Linked DNA regions of Homo sapiens: region 1 is linked to region 2. A link means that fine-mapping ties the variant in region 2 to the expression of a gene that starts in the linked region. Tissue or cell type: whole blood. Region 2 holds a variant in brackets; the other region holds the start of a gene. All regions are shown on one strand. Distances are between the middles of the regions.

Region 1 (4,245 bases), 32 kb before region 2:
CTCCTGAGAACCACTGTCTTGGGGACTGGAGGCTGAGATCTTCAGTGGAGCTTCTCTGAGTTTCCCTCCTTCAGCCCTTCCAACAGTTGTGAGAGCTTTAACTTCCTCCATACTAGGAACAGAGTGGCATTTGTTTTTATGATCAAACCAATAATTGCTTAAAAATGACTGCTGTCAGCAATTAGATTATAATTCTTTGTTGACTTACTCTTAAACTTAGTAAATGATGATATTGTCTTACAATAGAAATGTTGATAGTGAAAAATAATTTTAACATCATATCAAAAGACCTTACAACCGGCTCCATTTTGGTCAACATTGGATACTCACAATGGTGTACTTTGTCCGGGACATAGCATTTGCTTAGCAAATATGAGTGTATGAATTAGTGAATGAAGGAATGGATAAATTTATGTGTATCTGTATCCAAGTTGCTTCCTACTTATGATTATTAAAACATAGATCATATTTGTTCTAATTTTCTTTAGATTTATTTAGTACAATACCAACAACTTCCAGCTGCTCACTGCTTTGTTTGGATGACAATGATGAGTAGTTTTGGAAGCCAGTCCAGCACAAATTCTAGGAAATCCCAGGGTGCATCTGTAATTATTTTAGGGTCTTCCAGAGGTTGGAGATCACACCTGTTAGTTATGAATTACTTCCAAGGATGAATTTTTTTAAAAGGCTTTACTGTTGGATCGGTTTGAAGAGTTCAATCTCCTTACTTTTTTTTCTTGTAATGTAATTCTGAAAGGTAAATAGCAATGATAATCATTTTGCTGAATAAGAAAGTCAATGGTCAGTCCTCACCAGAATAAATCATGTTTATAATTTAATTGTAATTAAGACCATAATCTTTCACATGAAGAAATAATTTAATCATTCTTAGAATTAGACCAGCATTTTAAAAGCATCTACATTTATATAACATCACTGTATGCTCCATACTGAAGTCAAACTAAAATATGAATCTAACATTTAAGAGTTTGTAATTTTTTAAATATTGATGAATTACATAGAAAAGCTCAAAATTACATAATTTGCTATTTTTTCAAATAACTTATTTTCTTTGTGTTTTTTGTGGATGAAATAAGAAAGTAAGAATTCAGGAAAGTTTCATAATAATTGATAGCAAATGTGCAGATAAGTAATTGAGTTTGGAAGAATTTGGTCTGTTTTCATTTTGTAAACATTCACTATGTCCAAACTCTGTGCTACGTACTGTACTAACCAGTGGAGATACAAAGATGAATTACACTTGATAGTTACCCTACTGATGTTAAGGTAGACATCGACATTACAGACATATTCCTGGAAAAAAATTTGGTAAATTGTTTGAGGGAACAGGCAATAACTTAAAAAACAAACAAAACAAAGGAGCTTTAGGTGGACCGGACACTGGAGTGACACATGATAATCTCATCTACTTTTCATGTCACCTTTGAGAACCTCTCATAAAGCAGGAAACCGACTCTGGGACATTGAATCTCTGTCCCAAGTTAACCTGGTTAATAAAAAACAAAGCCAGAATTTATACCTAGTCTGTCTGAACCCTAGGGGCCAAATAGTCCTGTATTCCAGACAGTCTTTGGGTACAGATCCCAGACCCTCTGGCCCTGTGTTTACTACCATCCAGCCCATTCTCAAAGGGCATGTGGGCTCTTCAACTTGGGAATAATGTTTATTGGGTGATCTGTTTCTCTATACCTCTCATCCTCGAGGCTAAGAGGGCTCAGTTCCTTAAGCTTTCACCAGCTGGCAGAGGCAACTGGAGCAGAAGGTAGGAAGTGGATTTATTCAGCTTTTTTTGTGTGTGTTCCTTATTAAATATATATTGACAGCTCCTTATTTGTTGCGGTTAAATTGGTGTAAACTCTGAATTTACATTAAATCTGTGAGGTCAATTTCCTCATCTGCGTGTTACAGATGAAATTATCCGTATATTACCTTTCAGGAGTAAGTTGCCAAATAGTCTTAAGGTTTTATTATTCCAGGTCTTAACAGCTGTGCTACGAATAGCTGCTGGTGCTTGATACATGTTGAATGACTGACTAGATGCAAAGGATTTAAAAACAAGTGTTTGAGAGGGTAAAGCGCAGAGTAGTTTGGGTGCCCTATTTTACCTCTCCTTGTCAGCTGCGGGTGTCAAGACGGGTTGAGGGAGGAGAGCCAATGCACCCCGCTCCAACAAAGGGTCAGCAGCGCGGGCTCCTCGGAACGCTCCAGAAGACAACCCGGGCGCCCCGTTCACCCTGGCTTTCCTTGGTTCTGCAACGCGACCCGCGCGCTCGCGTCCCGGCGGATTGGAGCCATAGAAAGCGCACCGGGCGCCTTTAAATGCTAATGAGAGTCCAGGGCCCGACTCCCGAGCCAAGTTTCCCCACCCTCTCCCCTCGCCCGCCCTTCCCTCCCGGGCCGGTGCGCCGCCTAGAAAAACTTGTGCGGGGCCATTTTTGGGGCAGTAAGATCGAGCGAGGAGCCCAAGAGAGAGCGCGCAGCACGAAGCTCGAGCCGCCTCCGCCGCGCGACCCCACCTCGGCCGCCGCCGCCTGCGCCGCGAGATCCGCCCCGGCCTCCCCGAGAGCGAGCCCCGGCCGCCGCGACCACCAGCCGCGCTAACCGCCGACCAACCGCCACCGAGGCGCCTGAGCGAGAGCAGAGGAGGAGGAGGCATGAGTGAGGCGGGCGAGGCCACCACCACCACCACCACCACCCTCCCGCAGGCTCCGACGGAGGCGGCCGCCGCGGCTCCCCAGGACCCCGCGCCCAAGAGCCCGGTGGGCAGCGGTGCGCCCCAGGCCGCGGCCCCGGCGCCCGCCGCCCACGTCGCAGGAAACCCCGGTGGGGACGCGGCCCCCGCAGCCACGGGCACCGCGGCCGCCGCCTCTTTAGCCACCGCCGCCGGCAGCGAAGACGCGGAGAAAAAAGTTCTCGGTGAGTCAGGCCAGGGAGGGCAGGGGCTGCCGTAGTGGGGCGGGCCCAGCCGGCCGCGGAGCACGTGTGGGCAGCTCGCGCTACATCTCCCACCCGGGCTGGAGACGCTGACAGCACAGGGTCCCCAGGGATCTCCGGGTCCCCAGGGGTCTCCGGGTCCCCAGCGCTGGCCGCCTCCCTTGCCGGCGCTCCCAGGTGAGCGCGCTGCGCCCTGCGCTCCTGGCGGCCGTGTGCATCTCCCTTCTGGTTCCGGGCCAGAAAGTTTAGGTCTTAACTTCTGTCTCCCAGACGGGCACTGTTGCGGATTCGCGTGGTGGAAAATGCCTGCGTTTGGAGAAGAAAGGAGAGGCAGTCTGGGAGAGGGGACCTTGGGTAGGGATGGATGTAGGGGAAGGACCGACACGTGGGCCTGGCGCTTTGGGGTCCTTGCTTGGGATCTGGGAAAGGAGAGCATTTCCTTTGGGGAAGAGGAGGGCGCTAGAAGGAGACGGGGAGGGAAAGATAGAAAAGCTTCTTGCCAGGAAGGGTCAGGTGTCTGTCCCTGACGCCCTTCCCACATGGGCATGGGAAAGACGCCATGCTCCTGTTGGCCACATGCCAGCAAAGAGATGTTGCAATCGTCTCCGGGAAACTTGGGTCTTAGTCCCACGTCTTCCTCCCCCTCTCTGTGCCCACGGCTGCAAACAGCCATTCAGTGTCCACCAATGGCTACACGCTTCCCTCTTCCCGGACTGTGGGAACGCACGTGGTGTAGCAGCTGAAAAAACTTTGTCGGAAGTGGGGGTATGACGTTAGTTCAAAACATTGTTACCTTGGCACTTGTAACGTAGGAAGGGAAACAGGAAGATGAAATGTTGAGATTTGGGGGGGCAGTGGATGGAAAGGGTTTCTGTGATGGTTGTTGGTTTAGTCACATAACAAGCGTTCTTTTCGTAAGTAACGCCCCTGTGTGAGTTCTTAAACGCTTGCAAAGCAGGTGGGTGGTGAATAACCTCCCTAAAGGGTGTGTGTCCATATCGTTCGCTCTTATAAACAGGAACGTTAACAGATGGTGTAGGATGCTTCGGAGACCTCTTCACTATTTGGGGTGGGGCATGTTTGTCTCATCTCTCTGAGCCCTACTTCCCCTTTGGGAAGAAAGTTGAGGGAGCAATGTGAGAGAAGTGTATTCAATATTCCCCACCTTGAGAGGACTATTTTCTTGTTTTTTTTTTCTAGGGCTTTTACTAAGTCCCTACCAAACAACATGCTAATTGTAACCTGTGTAGGTTAAGAAACAAAATAGGCCTGATTTTGCTGGACTAAAAG
Region 2 (4,245 bases):
CTTTAAATGTTTGGTAGCATCTGAGCATAGAGTATTTTTTTTGAGAATTTTTAAACTACAAATTTAACAATTATAGGTCTATTCAAATTATCTATTTTATATTGGGTGAGTTTTGGTAGTTTATGCTTTTTAAGGAATTCATTGTCTCTAAATTATTACCACATTTGTGTATGAAGAGTTATAATGATTTTTTAGATTTTATTTTTAAGTCTTTGGGGATGGTAGTAAAATCTCTGTTTCACTACTGATATTTGTAATTTGCATCATTTTTTTCTTTGTCAGTCTCACAAGAGGTTTTCAATTTCATCAAAATTTTCAAAGAACCAGCTTTTTGTTTTATTGATTTTTCTCTGGTTTTCTGTTTTGCACTTTATTGACATCTGCTCTTTATTATTTCTTTTTTCCTGCTTGTTTTAGGTTTATTTTGTCCTTTTTCTGATTCTTAAGATTGGAGCTCAGATTATTTATTTTTGACTTTTTTCCTATTCTAATATAAACACTTATGCTATAAATTTCCTTCTCAGCATGGCATTAATTGTGCCCACAGATTTCAAATGTTGTATTCATATTTTCATACAGTTTAATGTATTTTAAAATTTATCTTGAAACGTCTTCATTGACCCATTAAGAAGTACGGTGTTTAATTTCAAATGCTTGTTGGTTTTTCTGTTATTCTGGTATTAATTTCTAATTTTATTTCATCATAATCAGGGAACACACACTGTATCATTTTGATTATTTTAATTTGTTGAGTTTTATTTGGTTTACGGTCCAGGATATGGTCTGTCTTAGTGAATGTTCCATGGGCTCTAAAAAATAATTCTGCTATTGTTTAGTGGTTTTGGTGATATTATTCTTTATCCTTGCACCAATAGAAAGACCATCTAATCATGTAATTTCTGCTCTGTGAACATGATAACTGCTGAGTTTTGGGAGAGACAAGGGAACCTGGGGCCATATGCTGACTGAGGTTGCCAAAAGAACTGGTTTGAACCAGCCAATTAAAGCACCTCCCCCATTTTGAAACTTGCCTTGCGGACTCAAGTAGATCTAACCAAAACCTGTCTTGACTACTCCAGAAGTCAGAGAAATTGGGTGGGGCAAAGTGAAAGATTATAAAAATTTTGTGAAAAATGTTGAGAAGCATGGTATGAAGTTACCTTTAAAGTCTCTTGCATAAATGAACAACACATTAAATACCAATGTTCTCAACATTGTTTTAGGCCTCCACAACAATCCTTGCTAGTCACTTTTGTTGCCATTTAGGAAATGTGAATATTGTGGATGCTGGTTACACAAATGTATTATAAGACTGAAATTCACAGAAAGTAGGCTGGATGGAGAACAAGCTCGGGAGTTATAATATCTAGGTTCAGGTCTAAAGCCCTCATCATCTATAACCTCAGGCTGCTCACTCCAGAACGTGGTTTCAACATATTTGAAAGGAAAAATGTAGTTTTCAACTAAAGGTAAAGGGGAAGACATTTCAGATTATCCCAGCTCTCCCTCAAGTAGAATATGCCATTGTCTTTTTGTGGATGGCTCTGTCCTGGTCTCATCTAGGGATTATGTTTCACTGCCTGAGACATGTAATCTATACCTCTACATAATTGTAGGACAAAGGATAGTGGAGGTCTCGGCCCATGTAGAGTAATCCAAGTGTGTGCCAATGACATTGTATCATAAGTATAGCCAACCAGAATAGGTAAGAGAGAAGCTAAACAAAGATCAAATACGTTGCTCGTTCTGGTCATTTAGTTTCTATTTAGAAAAGTGTATTTAAACTGTGGTATTAGATCGTTTTTGACAAGTACAGTTTGAGATAACCCTGATGATGTTGTGAAAGTAAAGTGTGCTGATAATGACTTTCCTTATTATTCTTATTCCTGAAGTCATTTTCTTGACAGACTCAGAACTTTCAGACCCTTTCCTCCTACTTTTTCTGCTTAGTGCTTCTCCTTTTTCTTTTTAAGGTTAAATTTTAAGGTTAAATGACTGCTGATGGCATGTGCAATTGTTAATCATTTCCATC[A/G]TCCCCAACAAGCAGCATTTGGTAGGTATTGAGGCCTTCCTTTATGAAGTTCGTTGTAGTTGGGAAGGTTTTGATGGTTAATTTTGTGTGTCAACTTGACTGGCCACAGGGTACCCAGATTAAACACTATTTTGAGGTGTGCCTGTGAGAGTGTTTCCAGAAGAGATTAGCATTTGAACCTGTAGATTCAGTAAATTGATTGTCCTTCACAGTGTGTGTGGGCATCACCTAATCCATTGAAGCCATGAATAGAGCAAAAGGCAGATGAAGGAGGAATTTGCCCCTTTTTCCCTGCCTCACCACTTGAACTGGAACATGTCGTCTCATCTTCTCTTGCCTGAGACTGGTATTTACACCATTGGCTCCTCTGACTCTCAGGCCTTTGGACTCAGACTGAATTAAACCACTGGCATCTCTGGAACTCCAGCTTACAGACAGCAAGCAGTTCTCAGCCTCTATAATGAGCCAATTCCTTATAATAAACCTTTTACATACATCATATATATACATCATATACACACACATCATATATATACACATATATACATCGTATATCATATATGTGAGATATATATATGTGTGTATATATCTCATATATATATATATATATATATATATATATGCTACTGGTTCTGATTCTCTGGAGAACCCCGACTAATAGAGATTTTGGTAGTGAGAGTGCTTCTAGAGGAATAGAATTTTAAGGATGAGTTTTCAGAATTCCTTCTGGAGTTCCCAGAATTGACTCTCTAATCTGATTAGATTTAAAGATGCTAATGACTACTTCCAGTAGTAAATAAAGCATTGATAGTGTATGACATGAACTGTTTATGGAGATATGCAAAATTTCTCCACTGGGTACTCCTAGTCCACCACTTACAAGGAAGCAAGGAGCTAAGTGACTATGTATATGATACTTTCAATCATTTTTGGAAAACTAAGGAAAATAATGATGTTAGTTGGTTGTTCCTATGTTTCTAGACAGAGTAGTGAAAGAAAAGGATGAGCTCAGGGATATGAAATCTCAGCTTAAGCACTACATAACTGTCTCAAGAGCTTCTATGTTTGACCTGAAGGAGACTCTTACCTCCTGTAGCTGTACGGCTGAAATTGCTGAAAATCGAAGGCAGAACCTCATCCTGTGACTGGCCGAGTACACTGCAAGTTGAATTCCCAGCTTTGCATGGTATGTTGTATTGAAGTGAGGGCATTAAATGAAAAAGCATGGGATCCTATACATTGGGATGTGGCTGTGTGGCAAGACCCTGATGAAGCTGGGGACATTGAGTCCCTCATTCTTATAGCATTCTTTACAAGTAGAAGAGGTCTTCCTAGCCCCCACAGAAGTGGTCCCCTCAACTCCAGAAGCAGCAGCCTCCCCATGCTCAATACAGTGGCATCCTCACCCCCAGTGGTATTAACCCTGAATTGCCTGAGAAAATAGTAATTGCCTTCCCTGAGACAGTGGCCCAGTGAAACAATACTGATTCTCAGGACCCACCCTCAACACCCTTATTTTCTTCTAGACCTACAACTAGACTCAAGTCCCAGCAGGCCCCTAAGGGTGAGGTAGAAAGTATGACCCATGAGGAGGTGCACTACACTCCAAATGAGCTACTTGAGTTTTCTAATTCATACACACAGAAATCCAGGGGACATGTGTGGGAATGGATACTAAGAGTATAGGGTGATAATGGAAGGAACATAAAATTGGATCAAGCTGAATTTATTGACATGGGCTCACTAAGCAGAGTTTCTGCATTTAATGTTGCAGCTCAACTCAAGGAGTTAGAATGAGCTCTAACAATTAATTTGATTGTTTGACTAAAACATTAATCAAAAGGTGGTTCACCATAAGTGAATTGGAAATACCAAAAATGCCTTGGTTTAATGTAGAGGAAGAGATCCAAAGGCATAGGGATATTAGAATGTTAGAGTGAATTAGTCATTTAAGACATTCTCACACTGAGAAGCCCAGAAGACATATCTTTCAGCAATACTGGAAGAAATAAATCTGTGAAGTAAGTTCTGGCATCTTTGAAGAGTTCTCTGATGGCTCTACTCTCCATAGGCCAGACCTCGTAGTGGGAACTGCAGTCACTGAATTGGGAAACCTAAATGCAGTAGGAGTAATTGGATCTTGGGGTAGCAGAGGCCAAGGCAAGTTGGGCGTAGTTACATTAGAGGGCATCAGAGTCAAAGCAGTAATCAGA

The links. PIP is the estimated chance that this variant, and not a neighbour inherited with it, causes the effect.
Region 1: YBX3 starts here. The variant in region 2 is the best candidate, but not a certain one, in a credible set for the expression of YBX3 in whole blood (INTERVAL, PIP 0.56).

Annotation. Positions count from the first base shown.
Region 1 is chr12:10,721,542-10,725,786 of GRCh38, reverse strand. It overlaps YBX3 (Y-box binding protein 3), which reads left to right and starts at 2,464. Exons shown (of 10, transcript NM_003651.5): 1 at 2,464-2,937. The coding sequence starts at 2,676. It overlaps LOC124902876, which reads right to left and starts at 2,735. Exons shown (of 2, transcript XM_047429946.1): 1 at 2,127-2,735; 2 at 469-750. The coding sequence starts at 2,677. The coding sequence ends at 681. RefSeq lists silencers at 2,349-2,568, 2,589-2,688, 2,819-3,218.
Region 2 is chr12:10,689,261-10,693,505 of GRCh38, reverse strand. No RefSeq gene overlaps it. Among named protein-coding and RNA genes, the nearest start is that of STYK1, 17 kb to the right of the region's middle. The variant A/G (reference allele first, on the strand shown) is at 2,033.